4 separate regions of the Homo sapiens genome follow, and regions 1, 2 and 4 are each reported to be linked to region 3. The links are microRNA targets in miRTarBase. Many come from high-throughput screens and were not tested one by one. Region 3 holds a microRNA gene; each other region holds the end of a gene's coding sequence. Distances are from middle to middle.

Region 1 (5,070 bases), 120 Mb from region 3:
ACTTGGTCTGAGAATTGGCAATGTAGGGTCAGACTTTCACTTATTTCTCTTATTTTCCCTAGATGCAATGTTCCACCCTTCATGCCTTATTTGCCTTGAAATTCAGAACTTCCACCTGCCTAAACCTATTTTGATACCTAATCAAATATTACTTGTAAGAATCTATATAAAGCAAATGTTTTGTCCAAGCATTTTAATTATGTTAACTTCTTTTTTTATTTTTCAACCCCCTGTGCAAGAGACCTGTTACAATACTCAGGCTCTTATAAGGGAAAAATTCAGACATGCTCATATCAATTTTCAAGCAGGTGCTTTCCAGTCCCTGGTATATCTGGTTTTTCTTTTCATAGAAAAGAGTTTGCCGATCCACCATCATCTGCTTTGTATCTTGGTTGGATTCTTCCCAGAAGATGCTATCGGGGAACAGCCCATTTGCACTCCTAATTTGTAAATCAGTCATAAAATCAGAGGAAAATATACATATGTCACTCACTCATTTGTACCTCAAATTCATCAATCTGAAGCTGCCATAAAGAGAAGAAAGCTAATGAAATACCTTCATATAATCTGTCCATGTGCCTATTTCCCCAGACTTGAAAACTGCTGGCCTTTATGAATTTGCTGTTTTGTTTTGTTTTGTTTTGTTTTGAGACGGGATCTTGCTCTGTTGCCCAGGATGGAGTGTTATTGTTTCCTTAAATCAAATTCTTTTCATTCAATCAATAAACATTTACTGAACTCCTATGAGCAGGTACTGTAGCCTTTTTTATCCTTCCTGAGAGAAATCAAAGGGGACTTATTCAGTGGGTTTCAGGCAATGATAAGGAAATGTCAATTTATGTCTGAGTTTTCTAGTCAGCTTTAAGGTAATCTCTTCTGCATAAGAAGAAATAAGACAACTGAGAGTAAAGAAGGGAAGGGAGAGAGGCAGTCAGCACCTGCTACATGCCTAGCACTGAGCCAAGGACTGTATGTGGGTGTAAGCCATAGAACTCTTAAGCCTCTTAAGAGCTATAGAGGTATTTATTTTTCCCATTTTACAGACAAGGGAAAAGAAGCTTTAATGAGTTTCATAACTGTTCAAGATGATTCCCCAAGCTACACTATAGCTTACATCCTTAACAGATTCACCGCAGGAAAATACTACTAGAATAATTTTAGAATTTAAACTCAGATCTGAGTAACTCCAAAGTGAAAGCTCAATGCTTGTTGTTGTCATTGTTTATTGCATAACACCAAGATGCTATAAATATCTCTGAACTGAGAAATTGCTCGTATGCTCCCAGTTGAGAAACTACTATCCTTTGTTGCTATAAATTCAGTTTTCCCCACAATTACTGGTTCAGCTCCCACTTGGGTAAGGAAGAAGCCCTTAACATTACGCCTTCCCTATGCCAAGAAATCTTTTATGTGAATAAAATCTTTTTTTACCTCCCTAAATTTTAAGATGAACTAAAGAAAATTTTGCTATGACCCTCCAGACTCCTCAATATTATCAAGTGAAAGTCTGTAATTAATCTCTTTTAATACTCTAGGAAATGTAAATCAAGATAATCCCCTAGTTTTTATAACATATTTATTCTTAGTCAATTGCTACTTCTTTTATATTCAAAAATTAAGTATATTATTGGTGTTTAGATACAGAGGAAAAACGCTGAAAAAATTACTCCTTCTAAGACTAACTGTCCCCAGATACAATTCATGGTAAAAATAATCCCTTTCTCTTATATTCTACCTCTTACCTCATCTTGATTTTAATGCAAAGGAATTCGTGGGCATCCTTCAATACTTCTTTGCTTATTTGAAGTTTTCTTCCTCTAGCTTTAACTAAGATGTCTTTTTAAAATCCATTGGCTTTTTTTGCTGACTGTGACTCTTACTTTAAGCAGAGCATTGTTATTTTCAAATTCTAACCACAGACACAGAGAGAAGGTTTAAACCTGGCAAAATAATTGAAGTTAGATATTACTCTAATAGAAAATAAAACTTGAAATGACCAAGGAACCCTTTTTCCATTGCAGTAGATTGCCTCATAAGGCCCACAGTGAAAATAACAGATTTTTCAAAAATTGAGTCCTTCCTAGCAAAGTTCAACAAGTACATGCAAATGTACATCTGTGAAATAAATCAGCCACGGATGCGACACCTGGAAATGAGGTCAAACAGGAAGCCATTTGTTATCACAATAAATTATATCTGTAATCTATACAGACTCCCCTACCACTCAAAAGAATCTACTTAGGAATTTTAAAGACCCTAGTTCATTTGGAAAAAAAAAAAAGATGAAAGGTTAACTGGAATATAATCCTGATGAAACTAAAAGCTTTTGTATAATTTAAGGACAACCTATACATGCTTTTAAAATTTAACTTCCTTACATTTGTATATGATAATGAGACTGATTTTAGTCAGTGCCTGAATTAACCTACAGAAATAGCTAAACTATTTAAACTTCAGATTTTTAAAGCAGTATTGTGTTAAAATTGTCCTTAGAAACCTAATATCCTTCTTAATGGCCTATCTATTCTTAGGAACCAAAATGGACCAGGAAAAAGTGAATGTAAGTTTCTTTTCCTTTGAGAGTTTCTTATTCTTCTTACCATGACGGTGCCGATGGGAACTTACATCTTGTACATTCTTCTAAGTAGTAGATTCCGTAATGCAGTACTACTTGGGAGCTCTAAACAATTGACAGCCTCAGGAGCCAGTTGTACGTCAACATCTTTTGCCATGGCTTCTTTCAACTAAGTTTTTGGTCCCATCAACATGGTTGCGTTTTCTAAGCAGAAAATAAAACTACCAGCATCCAGGCCGGGTGTGATGGCTCACGCCTGTAATCCCAGCGCTACTGGAGGCCACGGCGAGTGGATCATTTGAGGCCAGGAGTTCAAGAACAGCCTGGCCAACATGGTAAAACCCCATCTCTACTAAAAATACAAAAAAATTAGCTGGGTGTGGTGATGCGTGCCTGTAATCCCAGCTACCAAGAGGCCGAGGCAGGAGAATTCCTTGAACCTGGGAGGCGAAAGTCACTGTGAGCCAAGATTGTGCCACTACACTCCAGCCTGGGTGACAGAGCGAGACTCTGTCTAAAAAAAAAAAAACTACCAGCATCCAAACACAAGAACGATAAGACGATAAGAATTAGAAAAACTCTAGATTCCTGTTAATTTCCTCCCCCCACCTCAATCTACTTTCTTTTTCAGCCGTAGTTCTACAGGGCTCCTCAGGCCACTGCCGCTGCCCACCTCCCGGCCCCCACAGGCCTGAAGTCAGAAGCCTGGAGAGCAAGGTGGGATAAAGCACTGCAGCTCAGAACAGGCTGTGAGCTGCGGCCCTGGCAGTCTCCACAGAGTGCAAGAAACTAGCTATGAAGTAAAATAGCTAGCTCTTGCTTGATGCATGTCAGAGCAAGACACTTGTATTAGTCCTAATACTAAACCTCAGCCAGATTAAATTTAAAAAGAGAAGTTAGAAGAAATTGTCCTCTCTTGGTGATGTTCCTTAATTCATCACCTTTAACATTGTACCAATATACAAAATAACTATATAAAAGCACCTTAAAATAAGAATTCCTTCACCAAACTATTCTACATAGAATTATGTATCTTATCTTATAAAAACATGGTCCTATATGAAATGAAGTAGAATGTATGCTTGAATATAAAAATTAAAGCTACTGTTCTCAAGTTAAAAGCAAATTTGGAAATAATATAATTACTACTTACTGTCAGAAATCTACCTTTTTGTTATATTGTACTTAAACTAAGTTATGACTCAAATGCCTTAGCCAACCTCATCTGTTTTCATTAAGAATGGAAGGGAGAATGCCAAGAAATGCATAAGACTGTATCTCATCATGATATCTTCTTAAAAAAATGAACTCAATACTTCTTTATGCGTGATAGTTCACTGCCTTATTTCTAGCTGTTATAAGCCAGTTACCCAGTTTACTAAGTTGATTATTCCAGAATTTGTCCAAGCAAAAAGTTAAGCTGATGAGTATTTCCAGGGTCATCATCCATTTCCCTTTTTGAAAGAAGGTTCTAAATATGCCCTTTTCCAGTCTTCAGGCACCTCATCAGTCCTCCACGAGGTCTCAAAAATGATATCTAGCGGCTCTGTGATGACTTCGGCCAATTCATTAAGTACTCTAGGATGCCAGCCATTGGGACCTGTGGATTTGAACATATCTGGGTTATTGAAGTTCTCCTTTACCCATTCTTCCCCTAGTCCATCATGGATTTCTGCTCCTATTTTTAAGTCATTCTTGTCCCTTTCTGCTTACCACATGGACTTTTGAAGAACAGCCCTAAGAGTTTTTGCTTGTTATCTATCAATTTTCTCTTTCAAGCTAATTAAAAAAGAATGCATTTTATCCTTGTCAAGCCTATATTTTGTTTAAAAAGGCCTACTTTATTTTCCTTTTATGTTCCTTCTAAGAGGTGGAAACTTAAAAAAAAATGGTTAGATAAAAATATACCTTGTAATAGTTTGCATTCCTAAGTCACATTACTCAGTACTACACGTTAGCAACGTTAGTACTAGAGCAATAGTCAATACATTGTGAGACATTCCAAAGGCGACCTATCTCATGCTGGAAGAGCACTTATCTTTTCAACTTGTAGCTGCAAGTGCTAGTTTGAAATGCATCTTCCAAAGTAAAAATGATTCACAGTCATATTTAATCATTATCATCTGTATGTATAAACAGTAACTTTTTCACATAGGCATGTAAAAACCATAGTTGCACGTGAGCTGGAAAGAGGTTAATTAAGTATTTCTTACAAAGCAGCAACCTAGTCGAATTCATTTGCTGTGTGGTCTTTGCCATCAAAGTTCTTGGGTTTATATTACACTAATTATCTCCAAGCTCTGATAGGTGTTGACAGTTTTAACCCCTTCATTGTCACAATGATCCCTCTGAAATTGAAAGGCAGCAGTAGATTACAGTGCACTGCCCATCTGTCATGGCTCTGCTGTGTGCCCACAATCCCTTGACAGATCTAGATGGACAAAGAAGAGGAAGAAAAGGAAAGTTGGAAGGAAGAAGGATGCCTGAGTCTTTCC
Region 2 (5,070 bases), not on the chromosome of region 3:
CCACCAGGAACACAGAAGTCCCTGGCACCTGCTGCCCCAGCCGCCCAGCCCCACAACCTGACCTTCCCAGCCCCCGTCCTGGGACCCTCCCCACGAGCCAGCAACCGGAGGGTGGGGCCCGGCCGCCTGGCCCGCAGGGCCCTCCCAGGCCTGGGTGTGTGGCTAGTGCCCCGCAGGTGCCCAGGCCTCATTGCCCACCGGCTCTTCTCCCCGGTCCCCAGGTCTGCTGGTGCCTGTGCTGTGTGGTGCCTTCAGCGTGCTGTGGCTGGCGTGCGTGGTCCTGTGCGTGTGGTGGACACGCAAGCGCAGGAAAGAGCGGGAGAGGAGCCGGCTGCCGCGGGAGGAGAGCGCCAACAACCAGTGGGCCCCGCTCAACCCCATCCGCAACCCCATTGAGCGGCCGGGGGGCCACAAGGACGTGCTCTACCAGTGCAAGAACTTCACGCCGCCGCCGCGCAGGGCGGACGAGGCGCTGCCCGGGCCGGCCGGCCACGCGGCCGTCAGGGAGGATGAGGAGGACGAGGATCTGGGCCGCGGTGAGGAGGACTCCCTGGAGGCGGAGAAGTTCCTCTCACACAAATTCACCAAAGATCCTGGCCGCTCGCCGGGGAGGCCGGCCCACTGGGCCTCAGGCCCCAAAGTGGACAACCGCGCGGTCAGGAGCATCAATGAGGCCCGCTACGCCGGCAAGGAGTAGGGGCGGCTGCCAGCTGGGCCGGGACCCAGGGCCCTCGGTGGGAGCCATGCCGTCTGCCGGACCCGGAGGCCGAGGCCATGTGCATAGTTTCTTTATTTTGTGTAAAAAAACCACCAAAAACAAAAACCAAATGTTTATTTTCTACGTTTCTTTAACCTTGTATAAATTATTCAGTAACTGTCAGGCTGAAAACAATGGAGTATTCTCGGATAGTTGCTATTTTTGTAAAGTTTCCGTGCGTGGCACTCGCTGTATGAAAGGAGAGAGCAAAGGGTGTCTGCGTCGTCACCAAATCGTAGCGTTTGTTACCAGAGGTTGTGCACTGTTTACAGAATCTTCCTTTTATTCCTCACTCGGGTTTCTCTGTGGCTCCAGGCCAAAGTGCCGGTGAGACCCATGGCTGTGTTGGTGTGGCCCATGGCTGTTGGTGGGACCCGTGGCTGATGGTGTGGCCTGTGGCTGTCGGTGGGACTCGTGGCTGTCAATGGGACCTGTGGCTGTCGGTGGGACCTACGGTGGTCGGTGGGACCCTGGTTATTGATGTGGCCCTGGCTGCCGGCACGGCCCGTGGCTGTTGACGCACCTGTGGTTGTTAGTGGGGCCTGAGGTCATCGGCGTGGCCCAAGGCTGGCAGGTCAACCTCGCGCTTGCTGGCCAGTCCACCCTGCCTGCCGTCTGTGCTTCCTCCTGCCCAGAACGCCCGCTCCAGCGATCTCTCCACTGTGCTTTCAGAAGTGCCCTTCCTGCTGCGCAGTTCTCCCATCCTGGGACGGCGGCAGTATTGAAGCTCGTGACAAGTGCCTTCACACAGACCCCTCGCAACTGTCCACGCGTGCCGTGGCACCAGGCGCTGCCCACCTGCCGGCCCCGGCCGCCCCTCCTCGTGAAAGTGCATTTTTGTAAATGTGTACATATTAAAGGAAGCACTCTGTATATTTGATTGAATAATGCCACCATTCCGGCCTCCCTTGTTCTTTCGGTGCTGTCCCTTTTGTATTGAGAGTGAGGTTGGGGGAGAGCCACGCCGGCAGAGAGGCTTGGGGCAGTGGGGCGCGTGCTGGGTATTGGCCCACGTGGCTGTGGTGGCTGTAGAGGGCGAGACGGTTCTGTTGAGTCGGGGCCTGCCAGGGCCTCGAATGCGTTGGCATGCCAAGGTGGTGGATGCAGGTTTGGCCAAAACCTTCCTGGGAATGGGGAGGGGGGTGTCTAGGTGCCTGGCACCCGACCCTGACTAAAACAGCTGAAAACAGTTTTATAAAATAGTATAAAATTGCTTACCCACGAATACGTATCAAGGTCTTAAGGAATTAACAGGTCAAAATTTTTATTCATTCATTTATTCCTTTGTTTTGCTTGGTCATTCAGAGGCAAGGTCAGCATTTGATGGAGGCAGGAGAGAAGCAGCCCTTCCACCTGGCCCTGGAGCTGGTTTTGCCCCTCACTGCTTGAGCCAACTGGAACGTGGCATGGTGGCCTCAGGGCTGGGCATGGAAGGCCGACTCCAAGGCTGACTCCGAGCCGCCTGTCAGTGATGTGCAAGTCTTTACCCTGCTGTGAGGGGTAGGAGGTCAACTGAGTCAAGGAGCAAAGCCAAGAACCAGATCTGTACAAAAGAGAAAAAAAAAGTCCTGCTGACAGCCTGGGAGTGAGGCTGCCTTGCACAGGCAGAACAAATGAATAAATGAATGAACGAATAAAAATTTTGACCTGGTAATTCCTTAAGACCCGCTCGTTGCTGCAGAAGTTACTCTGGATGTCTGTTGTTGAGCACTGCTGCTGTGGACTCCAGGAAGCCATGCAAATGAGCTATGGTGTGCACTAGAGGGACAGTCTCCCTCACTCCGGCTGGAGTCCTCCCATCGGCTTCTCCATTGTATTGAGCCAGGTCTGCAGGGACACACAGAGGAGCTGGTAGGAGACCCTGCTTGCCATCAGTTGCTCACAAGCCCAAGGCTTGTGCCCTCAGGGTGGGGGCAAGGGTTAAACCCACCTCCTGCCGTGGCCCCAAGGGGTTGGCCAGGCAGTTCAGGCAGAAGGGCAGCCACTGAGGAGTCGTGTACACCATGACTCGTGTGGACCTGAAGCCCATGTTCCCACCACCAGGTTGGCCAAAAAGACGGCAGGCTTTGAGTTTCCTTTTAAACGGTGTGTACCTAACTTGCAGTTCCCTAGGTTCCTGGTAGAACCAAATGCAAATCACCTTTGTCCTAGACATCTGTACACCTCATGAATGAGTTTTCCAGGTCAGTGAGTAGACCACAATCAAACCAAGTACACGGGAACCTGGCACCATGATCGAAAGCCATGAGAAATGTGTGCAGAGGCATCCGAGTGTACTGGAATTCTCAGACATGGATTGTAAAAAGCTTGCTGTGCTCAAAGATGGCTTGGAAAAGCTGATAGGCCAAACTTCAACCTAGCACCAAGTAGAACTTCTAGAAATGGAAAAAAAAATACAGCCTTCAAACCAAACACTCCAGAAGTAGTTTGGCAGCCACGCTTAGACACTGCTAAAGAGAGAATTTGTGAACTAGAAGACAGGTGAGAAGAAATGATCCAGGCTGCCCCCCAGGACAAGAGATAGAAAATAGCATCAGCAGCTGAGGAGGGGGCCCCAGGCAAGGGCCTGGCAGGGGCTGTCCTGAGGCCCACAGGAGCCCATCAGGCATAGGGTGAGCAGTAAGTAGGTGCGGCAGGTATAGCGGGTGTCATAGGTGGGGCTGGGTTGCCCAGTTACTTCTGCAGGAAGTGTCCCACAGGCCTGGCCCTTTCTGGCTGTGCCAATGTGTTCCCCAGATTCTGGGGAAGCCCCTGTAACCTCCGGGAGATGCATCTGGCTTGGAGTCTCACAGGACGTAGTCTGGCCTCCATGCCCGTGTAAGGGTGTGTGGCTGTTGGAGGTGGAGGGGTGGCACTCAGGGATCATTCATGCACCAAGTGTGCATGGGTTGAGCTGAGAGCCTCTGCAGTTGCCTGCGTGTGTCCATGGTGGGCGGGCCTGCCGCCCCCCACCCTGAGCTCGCCATCCAGTGTCCTGAGCCCACTGGGAGTTCATGGCCTCCCTCCACCCCATACTCAGTCATAACCCCCCACTTAGGGGACCTTGCACCTTTTCAGGCCTGGCTGGTGCCTGGCCATGGCCAGCCCATGTGGATGGCAGTGTCAAGAGGTCCAGGCCCGGCCAGCAGGCTTCCTGCTTGCTGTCTCACGCCATGTCAGGGCAGACGATGGGGCTCTTCTTCATCTCAGTGCTACTGCCCCCATGGTGTGGTCATGAAGCCGGGCTAGGTTCTGGCCCAACCCCCTGGGGTAAGCCTGGCAGTCCCTGCCCTCAGACCCTAGGCCACCTCCACACCTCCTGAGTGCCACTCACCTGCCTCACAGAGTCCGCTATGCAGAGGCCAGGGTCCACAAGTGAGGGTTAGGCCTCAGGGTCCATCCTGCTGCCACCAAAGCCTTGTTCCCTTGTGGGTGGGTGGGTGGGTGGGTGAGTGGCTGCCCCCAGAGAGGGCGCTGTGTGGTCAGCAAATCTAGCGAAGAAAGGCAGGCTCCCTGGCACCCCCAGGCTGGTGCTAGGCCCCTGGGGCCCCTCTGGCTGTGGCTGCAGGAACCCCGGTGGTCACCCCTACTCTGGCCGCTGGGCTTGGGACCTGTGCCACTCCTGTTTGCCCCTCAGGACACACAGGCGTGCCCTGCTACCCGTCCTGGCTGCCAAGTTCCTGGAGCCCGCTGTGTCTTGCACTGCCATGAAGCGGGGGCCCCCAACGGCCAGTCTCCCCACTGCCTCCACTCTTTGCTCTTCCTGTTGACAGGTCTGGGGCTGTGACCTGCCATACAGAGGGAGAGCTCCTCTGTCACTGGGGCACATGTCCCCAAAATGAGCACCTGGGCCTCCCCAAGCCTGGTGGGCAGTGAGCTTGGGGGACACCAGGCTCCGAGGCATGTGCCGGCGACTGGCGGGGCAGGGCCTGTTCCCCACACTTTGGAGCTGCTCCCAGCTGGGCCCAGAGGCTACATGGCTGTTGGCTTTGTGGCTCGGATGGGAAGGGTCTGGATGCAGAGGGAACTTTGAGGTGGCCACTGCAGCCCCGGGGGGTGCCTGGCTGAGGCGGCCCTGGGCAGCAGGCGCTCACTCAGGCAGAGGGTTACAGGGAGCCGTGCCACCACCCCTGCCACCACTTTCCAGGCAGAGTGACCTGTGCACAAAGGCCAACCTGCAGGCTAGACGGCGTGGGCGGGGCCATGTGCGCACATGCCCCGGAGACTCCTGCCTCTTCTCATTCTGCACCGTCAGAGCAGGGAGCAAAGGGTCGGCCCTGCCTGGCCTGGCCCGAGGGGTGCGTCCTGACCGCGCTGTCTGACCCAGCCTGGGA
Region 3 (5,070 bases):
CCCAAGCGGCGCCGGCAGCGGGGCTCAGAAACAGGCAGCGAGACCCATGAGAGTGATCTGGCTCCTTCAGACAAGGAGGCTCCCACACCCAAGGAGGGAACACTCACCCAGGTCCCTCTCGCTCCCCCACCACCAGGAGCCCCACCTTCACCAGCCCCAGCCCGCTTCACTGCCCGGGGTGGGCGAGTCTTCACTCCCAGAGGGGTGCCATCTCGCCGGGGCCGAGGAGGAGGGAGGCCCCCTCCTCAAGTTTGCCCAGGCTGGAGCCCTCCAGCCAAGTCTCTGGCTCCCAAGAAACCTCCCACAGGCCCTTTGCCACCAAGTAAGGAGCCTTTGAAAGAGAAGTTGATCCCAGGGCCTCTGTCCCCTGTGGCGCGCGGAGGCAGCAATGGAGGTAGCAATGTGGGCATGGAAGATGGGGAGCGACCCCGAAGGAGGCGACATGGGAGGGCTCAGCAGCAGGATAAACCGCCTCGTTTCCGGAGGCTGAAGCAGGAACGGGAGAATGCCGCAAGGGGGTCTGAGGGCAAGCCCTCCCTAACCCTTCCAGCCTCCGCTCCTGGACCTGAGGAGGCCCTCACAACAGTCACAGTGGCCCCAGCACCTCGCCGGGCAGCTGCCAAGTCTCCTGATCTGTCAAACCAGAACTCAGACCAAGCCAATGAGGAATGGGAGACTGCATCAGAGAGCAGTGACTTCACCAGTGAGCGCCGAGGGGACAAAGAGGCACCCCCACCAGTACTGCTGACACCCAAGGCTGTGGGAACTCCTGGGGGAGGTGGAGGTGGAGCCGTACCAGGTATTTCAGCCATGTCCCGCGGAGATCTGAGCCAGAGAGCCAAGGATTTGAGTAAACGGAGCTTCTCAAGTCAGCGGCCAGGCATGGAACGGCAGAATCGGCGCCCTGGCCCAGGGGGCAAGGCTGGCAGCAGTGGCAGCAGCAGTGGAGGAGGCGGTGGGGGTCCTGGAGGAAGGACCGGGCCAGGACGAGGCGACAAGAGGAGCTGGCCCTCTCCCAAGAACCGAAGGTGGGTAGGAACAAACAAATTTATTGTGGTTTAAAAATTGGAGGAGGGGGAAAAAGCCTGAGGGAAAGATAAGTTTGGGTGGAGTGGAGATTGTGGCCTGAGGGGCCATGGGCTCTAGAATGTCAGTAGGATTTCCATGTCTGGCTAAGGCAACTGGAAAGCGGTTGGTAGGGTGTTAGAGTCAAGAACACCCACCTATGTATTCATTGCTGGTTCTTTGCTTTCCAGTCTGTGCATCTGTATGCATAGGAATCCTTAGAAGGACTCAAAAACACCTGGACTTTAATAGGGAAGAGAATAGGTTGTAAGCAGAAGTTGGGAAACATAACTTGTGGGAAAAAGTAACGATTTAGTGGATACTGGAGCTAATGCTCTGTTTTCTCCAGTCGTCCTCCAGAGGAGCGTCCCCCGGGGCTTCCCCTGCCTCCCCCACCTCCCAGCAGTTCTGCTGTCTTCCGCCTGGACCAAGTTATCCACAGCAACCCTGCTGGCATCCAACAGGCTCTGGCCCAGCTTAGTAGCCGTCAAGGGAGTGTAACTGCACCAGGGGGTCATCCAAGGCACAAGCCTGGGCTTCCCCAAGCCCCTCAGGGCCCCTCTCCTAGGCCCCCAACCCGATACGAGCCCCAGAGGGTCAACAGCGGCCTCAGTTCTGGTAAGCTGGAGGGGTTATGGGTGGGAATATCTCCATCCCCAGAGAAGGTCAAGTGCTGGAGGGAGCGGGTGGAGAACCTGGCCTAGGGACCCTGCTGCTGGGTGCGTTTCTGCAGGGAGCAAGGGTAGAAGAATTGGGAGGTGGAGTAGAGAGGAAAAGTTAGGGTCAGTGGCAGAGCCAGGCAGATGCTGACCCTTTTTCTCTTTCCCAGACCCCCACTTTGAGGAGCCGGGGCCAATGGTGAGAGGGGTGGGTGGGACTCCTCGGGACTCTGCCGGGGTTAGTCCCTTTCCCCCTAAACGTCGGGAGCGGCCTCCCAGAAAACCAGAGCTGCTACAGGAGGTAAGGGATGGGTTTGAGATTGTGCTTCACTGCACTCTTACTCGTGAAAATTCTTCTGGGTTATGTTTTCTCTGTTTTCTTTCCTGTTTCTTTCACTGTGTTTTTACTCCAGAATTCTCAGTATTAGTCTCCCATGTGTCTCCCTTGTTGTCCCCACACCCTGTGTCACCCCACTCTGTCCTGGCTTCCTATAATTCCCAATTCCCACCCAATTCATGTTTTGCTTCTGGCCCTTCTCATCTGTAGGAATCTTTGCCACCTCCTCATAGCTCTGGATTCTTGGGCTCTAAGCCTGAGGGCCCAGGCCCTCAGGCAGAGTCCAGAGATACAGGCACAGAGGCCCTGACCCCTCACATCTGGAACCGTTTACATACTGGTGAGTAAAGCTGAGTGAAAGGACTATGGTAGAAGGGTTAAGAATGAGAGGGGCTTCTGAACTGTCATCTCCTCACTTCTCTTCTGGTTGGTGCTCCCTTCTCCAGCCACTAGCCGAAAGAGTTACCGGCCCAGCTCCATGGAGCCTTGGATGGAGCCCCTGAGTCCTTTTGAGGATGTGGCTGGCACAGAAGTGAGTGAGGGTGGGAGGGTGTGTCTGAGCTGGGACTTTTTTGAGCACTGGTCATACCCCCCACCTGCTCTGGGTTGAGTCTGGAGCTGTTCTCTCACTTGGCTGTCCCCTTTCTGCAGTTTGTATGTGTGCATCAGTCAGGTATTGGGGTGCTTTCTACCCTGACTTAACTAGCTCCTTCTCCACTCCTCTCAGATGAGTCAGTCTGACAGTGGGGTGGACCTGAGTGGGGATTCTCAGGTGTCATCAGGTCCCTGCAGCCAGCGAAGTTCCCCTGATGGAGGACTCAAGGGGGCAGCAGAGGGACCCCCCAAGAGGCCTGGAGGCTCCTCACCCCTGAATGCTGTTCCTTGTGAGGGTCCACCTGGCTCTGAACCTCCTAGGAGACCACCACCTGCCCCCCACGATGGGGACAGAAAGGTAAAAGACCAAAAAAGGATAAGGGGAATGTTTCCAGGAATCTGACTTTGGCCCTACCTTTTTCTGCTTTTTCTCTCTGCGTGTGTGTTCTGGGCATTCCAATTTGGATTTCCCTTTCCCTCCCCCAATGCACTTTACTGTGTGCCCAATCCAGGAGCTGCCCCGGGAGCAGCCTCTGCCCCCTGGCCCCATTGGCACAGAACGATCACAGCGTACAGACCGAGGCACAGAGCCTGGCCCCATTCGGCCATCCCATCGACCTGGTCCCCCAGTCCAGTTTGGCACTAGTGACAAGGTCTGTGTGGGCTGGATCTGGGTATCCTGAGTTGGGTGGAGAGAAGGGAAGGACTAAAGGTGGGACATAGAGGACACATGTCTGTCACGGGACAATGTCTCCTGCCTTCTTGTGATCACAGGACTCAGACTTACGCCTAGTGGTAGGAGACAGCTTGAAAGCAGAGAAGGAGCTAACAGCATCAGTCACTGAGGTAAGTGGGAGTAAGAGTTTGGTGGAAAGGCCCAAGATTTCTGGGGAAGATTGCTGGGAGTGACCAGGGCGTCCAGGATGCCAGACATCCCTCTCCACGAGGCCTCTCCTTCCCAGGCCATTCCTGTATCACGAGACTGGGAGCTGCTTCCCAGTGCTGCTGCCTCTGCTGAGCCACAATCCAAGAACCTGGATTCTGGGCACTGTGTCCCGGAGCCCAGCTCCTCAGGCCAGCGCCTGTATCCTGAGGTTTTCTATGGCAGTGCTGGGCCTTCCAGTTCTCAGGTAGGCCCCGCTTCCCATTGCATGACCCCTTCAGTGAATAATAATTTTTTTCTGCCTGGTATGTATTTATAATCAAGCCTTTCTACGTTGCAGAGTTGTGAGATACCACTTTGTCACATCATTTTTCTCCCTACTTTTTGCTTCTATGGGTGGGATGGTGATCTTTTTTCTTGACCACAGATACTAAAGCTGTTTCAACCGTGCTCCTCTCCTGCAGATCTCTGGGGGAGCCATGGACTCTCAATTACATCCAAACAGTGGAGGCTTCCGCCCTGGGACACCCTCACTGCACCCTTACAGGTAAGACTCGATGCCTGTGGATCACAGAAGTACTTGGAGATGTGTTTCGGGGAGAGGGAAGGGGAAGACACAGTTCTAGGGTACTAGAAGCTAGTGGACTTAAGGCATTGCTAGGACTCTGGCTTCCTAACAGCTTTTCTCCCCACAATTTATTTTCAGATCACAGCCCCTATACCTACCCCCCGGCCCAGCCCCTCCCTCAGCACTGCTCTCTGGGTTAGCTCTCAAGGGCCAGTTTCTGGATTTCTCCACAATGCAAGCTACAGAGCTGGGGAAGTTGCCGGCTGGAGGAGTTCTCTACCCTCCACCTTCCTTCCTCTACTCTCCGGCTTTCTGCCCCAGTCCTTTGCCTGACACATCGTTGCTTCAGGTAAGAGGGGGGCAGGTATTAGATATTGGGGGATAGGGTAGGGAGAATGATTTTGTGGGGGTTGATATATTTCTCCCTGTTTCCCGACAGGTACGCCAGGATCTGCCATCCCCTTCGGATTTTTATTCTACTCCTCTGCAGCCTGGTGGCCAAAGTGGCTTTCTCCCTTCAGGGGCTCCTGCCCAGCAGGTATATTGTATCTTCACACTTCCCCTTCATTTGATTTCTCTGTCCAGTTGCTGGCTTTGATTTTCCCTGGTTTTCTGACATTCCTCCCTGCCCCCAACATGCACACCCAAATTTCTTGTTACAGATGCTTCTACCCATGGTAGACTCACAGCTGCCTGTGGTGAACTTTGGCTCCCTGCCGCCAGCACCACCTCCTGCCCCACCTCCCCTTTCTCTGTTACCTGTGGGCCCTGCTCTGCAGCCCCCCAGCCTGGCTGTGCGGCCCCCACCTGCTCCTGCTACTCGGGTGCTGCCTTCACCTGCCAGGCCCTTCCCCGCTAGCTTGGGGCGAGCAGAGGTAAGGTACAGGAACTGAGGGGCTAGGGAGCGCCAAGACTTGGGAGTAGGGATTCTGTATTTCAAGGTAGGCAGCTCATGATTTTTTTC
Region 4 (5,070 bases), not on the chromosome of region 3:
GTGTTAAACTTCTTAGTGTTTTTAAAATTACTTGTTAGGTGACCTCCAAAAGCATCCCAAACTGGGTGTTATATGAGACTATTAAGACTTGGGTATAAAAGCATTGTATTTGAGCACATACAATAAAAACATATACGTCTTACCCTTTGCTTCTTTGTCATTAGCACTAGAGAAGTAGATTTCACCCAGTTGAGGTACTTATTTTTTTTAGCATGGGTGTTTTGTTTCTTATAAAGAACACTGCATTGTAATAATGCTATATGGAGGCATTGGTAAACTTGTAGATTCTAAAGTCATGGCTCTGAAACTTGTTTTTATAGAAAAAAGCCCCCTTTAGGTAGCTCCTACATTTTCTGCATTTCTTTTTGCGTGGGTAAATGTGACTGGCAATTCCCTATTCAAACCACATTGCCTCTTTACTACAGGGGACAGCAGTTTGCTCAGCAGATACAGCAACAAAATCCTGAACTTATAGAGCAACTGAGAAATCACATCCGGAGCAGATCATTCAGCAGCAGCGCTGAAGAGCATTCCTGATTTAACCAGGGGCTCAAGCCCAAGATACAAATGGTTTATGGCTATGAATGAAGTATTTGTTGTAGATAGTACCCCCTCCCTCCTTCAAAAAACCAAACACCATATCTGATGTGTGAAAATAATGGAGGAAAACCTCTTGTGTATATTCTTAAAGAATAAATCTGTTTAGACAATAGGTTTATCACAAACAAACTCAAAACATAACATGACTCCTTTTGAAATGATCACTAGCCATGTTACGTGCCAATATAGCACTGGGATAAGGTTCCATTTTCAAACTTCTATCATATTTGTATATTAGACTTAATAGCAAAGCATATTTATTGAACTCTAGTAGGGCTATTTGTTGGTAAGCTCTTTAGCTCCAATTTCCCTTAAGCAAAGTTTTTTGAGAAGGGAAATGACCCAAAGGAAAGGTTTCCTATGCTGGTTGAGAAGAAGTGTACTTGCCACTGAGCAGTATGTCAGGAAAGAAGGAATATTATCTAGGTTTAGCTTTGATAAGTGCTATTAGTAATGAATATATAACATGGGAACCAATGTTATCTTTAATGTTGCTTGTTCTGGTGAACAGAGAATCTTAAGAGCTGTTAGAAAGTAGCACTTGATGCAAGGGATGTTTTGAAAAGAAAAAATTGGTAATGCGAATGTATAGAAAGTAAAGGTAGGATGCTCAGGTTTTCTGCATAGTTCTTAACTAATCTTGTCTGCAGTTTGGTATTGATAATATTAGCATGGCCACTTATGCTAAATACACAATAAGATACATTTAGAAATCCTTAATGTACTGGTTAGGTCAGTGGTACAACTGTTTGACTTAATTATCACAATTTCCCCAATGGTAACCTTACCTTGGAAACTATCAAATATAAATATACTTTAACTAAGCCAGTGACCTGGTCCTAAGTTAAGGATTTTCTAAATGGTATTTAATTGTGTGCCCATAAACACTGATTTTTTTTAAAAAGAAAACTTAGTAATTATTTGATGGATAACAAAAAGCATCTATCACTAACATTGCTTGTTCATGTAATCTTCTGTGATAATTTGGCTTGGCATGCCAGTCTTATAATTAACATAATTTAAATTTGATGCAATTTAAATATAACAGGAGACTTAAAATATTTTATTATAAATTAGATGCCATATTAGTTAGTGGAGAAAAGGGGCATTAGGTATTAATTGCATGGGTCTAACTACATTGATGATGAGAGTTTAATTCCAACTAGAGTATATTTTTTGTTTATTAATAATGAAATTGGTGCTGACATGTAATGACTTCACAAGTTTTACGAGGGAAAACTGAAAAAGGAAGTAATATAAATTTTGTGGGGTTTTTTTGAGATGGAGTCTTACTCTTTTGCCAGGCTAGAGTGGTGTTGCAATGTCAGCTCACTGCAACCTCCACCTCCTGGATTCAAGTGATTCTCGAGCCTTAAGCTCCCAAGTAGCTGGGATTACGGGCGCCCACCACCACGCCCAGCTAATTTTTTTTTTTTTTTTCTTGAGATGGAGTCTCTCTCTGTCGCCAGGCTGGAGTGCAGTGGCGCAATCGCGGCTCACTGCAACCTCTGCCTCCCGGGTTCAAGTGATTCTCCTGCCTCAGCCTCCTGAGTAGCTGGGATTACAGGCACGTGTCACCATGCCCAGCTAATTTTTGTATTTTTAGTAGAGACGGGGTTTCACCATGTTTGCCAGGATTGTCTCAATCTCTTGACCTCGTGATCCGCCTGCCTTGGCCTCCCAAATGCTGGGATTACAGGCGTGAGCCACCGTGCCTGGCCGCTAATTTTTGTTTTTAATGGAGAGAGTTCCACCGTATCGGCCAGGCTGGTCTCGAACTCCTGACCTCAAGTGATCTGCCCATCTTGGCCCCTCAAAGTGCTGGGATTAGAGGTGTGAGCCACTGTGCCTGGCCAGGAAGTAATATACAATTAAATGAGTAATAATGCAGATGATTAGGCCTTATAGAACCCTTATCAAAAGACTAATTGGCCGGGCGCTGTGGCTCATGCCTGTAATCCCAGCACTTTGGGAGGCCAAGGCAGGGGGGATCACCTGAGGTCAGGAGTTTGAGACCAGCCTGGCCAACATGGTGAAACCCACCTCTACTGAAAATACAAAAATTAGCCTGGCTTGGTGGCGGGCACCCGTAGTCCCAGCTACTTGGGAGGCTGAAGCATGAGAATTGCTCGAACCTGAGAGGCAGAGGTTGCAGTGAGCCAAGATTGCGCCACTGCACTCCAGCCTGGGTGACAGAGCAAGACTCCATTTCAAAAAAAAAAAAAAAAAGAAAAAGAGACTAAGAGACTAATTATTTTGTATCTTGAAGTTTAAAATCCAACTTTTCTCTTTCTCCTTTGTGACATTAGAACAGTAGTTCTATAACTTCATTGTAAGAATCACCTGGATAATTCATTAAAGATGCAGATTCAGGGCCACGTGTTCAATTCTGATACAGTAGGTCCTGTAATAAGGCCTAGGAATGGCCATTTTTAAACAGTACACTAGGTGGTTTTGATACAGATCCAAGGACTCTAATTTAGAGGAACACTAGGTTAGAGGTTTCTCAGACCTGCAAACACCTAAGCACCTGGGCCAAACAAAGCTACAACGAAGATCTGTATGAAGATATATAGTTCTGCAGAATTTAAAAAGAGCACAATTTAAGTCTTCGGCCCTCAGAAGTTAAATTCATATTCCATCTAAGCCAACTTTGATTTTCATTAAGTTAGAATGAACTCCTAGTATTCCAGTATTACACAGAACGAAGTACTACTACTAACACATAGAAGTCATTACTGTGATATAAAAAGCAAAATAGATCCTTAATTAAAAATTAGTCACTCATATTCAGTGTTGAATAAGAAGTTAAAGTTTCTAGCATAACTATCTTGAGTGCATTAAAAATGCTTTTAGAGCAATAAGATAAGCTTCTAGCTGACTGCCTAGAAAAACAGAAGATACAAATTCAGTGTCAGAAATGAAAGGGAATACACTACAGACACTATAGTTATTAAAAGGCTAACTAGAAAACACCATGACCAACTCAAGGATTGTATATTTAACAACTTAGATGAAACAGATTCCCTATAGGATACAAACTAGAAAGCTCACTGTAGAAACAGATAACCTAAACAGAACCATATTTATTAAGGAAATTGAGTTTGTGGTTAAGTTAAAAACCTTCCAGTAAAGAAAACTACAGGCCCAGATAACTTCCGTGATGAATTTTACCAAACACTTAAGGGAGAAATAATATCAATTCTAAACAATCTCTTCCAGGAAACAGAAGAGGAGGAAATACTTCCCAACTCATTTTATTTGACCAGTATTACCCAGACAAAGATACTATAAGAAAAAAAACTTTAAAACAATGTCTTCATGTGCTAACATCTGTAGTTAAATTAGCCATTCTTTTTACATGAAATAATGGGAATTGGTATATTTCTTCCATTTCATTTTTCTATTTCTTTGCTAATATACCACCTGTAACAAATTCAATCTAGATGCTATCTGTCCACTTGCCTACATTTCCATTCTATTCAAGCCATTTTTGCTCTTCAAGTACCTTGATCACTTTGGAATCATAGCATTGCAAGCTATTTCAAAAAAAGTTGCGTGGTTGGATTGTGCTAGCTACTTTTAAATTTATAAAAAATGCCCCATATATTTTCTTGCTTGTCTGGGAAATATAGTTGCTATCTAACTAGAAAAATAAGAGGGCATTATTAAAGTAACTCTTTAAGCATCGTACTAAATGTTTGACTTCCATTAACCATATTTCTTGTAGTAGCTGTAGCTATTATGATACTGTGTAAAACAGAACAGGTTCTATATATGCAAATGACATTTTCATTTAATGTACCAAATTGTGTATCTAACTTTTATAATATAGGTTAAACAGATCCTTTCTAAGATGGCATTATTTAATCTTTACTTAAAACTATGAAAAATATGTGTAAGTTATTGTTTATAAACAGAAGAGACTATAATTAAAATATAGAGCAGATTCCAAGTGACCATCATTTTACTTTTTAGATTTAAAACAGAATGAAACAGAAGATTTAGTCATAAGAAGATGCTTGAAAAACAATCCAAGTATCCAATGCAGTGGCTATAAAATATTATTTCATCATTTAATCTTAATCATTTTGAAACAAAGACAGACTTCAATTTTACACTGCTTGCACTTTATTTTGTACAGACATTTCATTAATTATTACTCAATTTTGAGGTGCAAACCTTCTGAATATAGCTTTCATTTTGGACCAAACAATTTGTTATGGCAATAAATAATGATGCATTGAAAAACCAATTTTTGTATTTGATTTAATGCACTCTTACATTTAAGAAATTATATATACATTCTTGAATTTCAACTTACCAAAATAGAATAGCTTTTATTTAACAGCCTAAGCTTTTGTTTTCCTGACAAATACTGAAACTTTTTGTTACATTAATGCTGCAAAGTTGTTTATCACCTCAACTTTCTCACTGCTTTGCTCATAACTAAGTGTGATTACATGGAGA

Evidence for each region. The annotated mature microRNA hsa-miR-6832-3p reads ACCCUUUUUCUCUUUCCCAG and lies in region 3 at 1,875-1,894, shown strand. An mRNA with a match to its seed (bases 2 to 7 or 8) in the 3' UTR can be bound and repressed. Matches are read on the target gene's strand: a 7mer-m8 pairs with bases 2 to 8, a 7mer-A1 pairs with bases 2 to 7 and ends in A, and an 8mer does both.
Region 1: the mRNA of SAMD5 is a reported target of hsa-miR-6832-3p. Seed matches in the 3' UTR shown: 7mer-m8 at 4,056-4,062, 8mer at 4,027-4,034, 7mer-m8 at 2,005-2,011 and 7mer-A1 at 1,715-1,721.
Region 2: miRTarBase lists JAG2 as a target of hsa-miR-6832-3p. The part of its 3' UTR that is shown has no 7-base or 8-base seed match.
Region 4: miRTarBase lists SGTB as a target of hsa-miR-6832-3p. Seed matches in the 3' UTR shown: 7mer-m8 at 1,699-1,705 and 7mer-A1 at 3,524-3,530.

What each region holds. Positions count from the first base shown.
Region 1 is chr6:147,563,499-147,568,568 of GRCh38, reverse strand. It overlaps SAMD5 (sterile alpha motif domain containing 5), which reads right to left. Exons shown (of 2, transcript NM_001030060.3): 2 at 1-4,175. The coding sequence ends at 4,113. Among named protein-coding and RNA genes, the nearest start is that of SAMD5, 57 kb to the right of the region's middle.
Region 2 is chr14:105,138,322-105,143,391 of GRCh38, reverse strand. It overlaps JAG2 (jagged canonical Notch ligand 2), which reads left to right. Exons shown (of 26, transcript NM_002226.5): 26 at 222-2,397. The coding sequence ends at 697. Among named protein-coding and RNA genes, the nearest start is that of MIR6765, 10 kb to the left of the region's middle.
Region 3 is chr6:31,631,965-31,637,034 of GRCh38, forward strand. It overlaps MIR6832 (microRNA 6832), which reads left to right and starts at 1,823; the gene lies at 1,823-1,894. PRRC2A (proline rich coiled-coil 2A) reads left to right here. Exons shown (of 31, transcript NM_004638.4): 16 at 1-1,028; 17 at 1,415-1,683; 18 at 1,895-2,025; 19 at 2,272-2,401; 20 at 2,508-2,593; 21 at 2,789-3,013; 22 at 3,168-3,308; 23 at 3,430-3,501; 24 at 3,618-3,785; 25 at 4,003-4,085; 26 at 4,245-4,455; 27 at 4,546-4,644; 28 at 4,769-4,981. RefSeq lists a silencer at 2,715-2,878.
Region 4 is chr5:65,665,713-65,670,782 of GRCh38, reverse strand. SGTB (small glutamine rich tetratricopeptide repeat co-chaperone beta) reads left to right here. Exons shown (of 11, transcript NM_019072.3): 11 at 426-4,855. The coding sequence ends at 537. It overlaps TRAPPC13 (trafficking protein particle complex subunit 13), which reads right to left. Exons shown (of 13, transcript NM_024941.4): 13 at 4,550-5,070. Among named protein-coding and RNA genes, the nearest start is that of TRAPPC13, 43 kb to the right of the region's middle.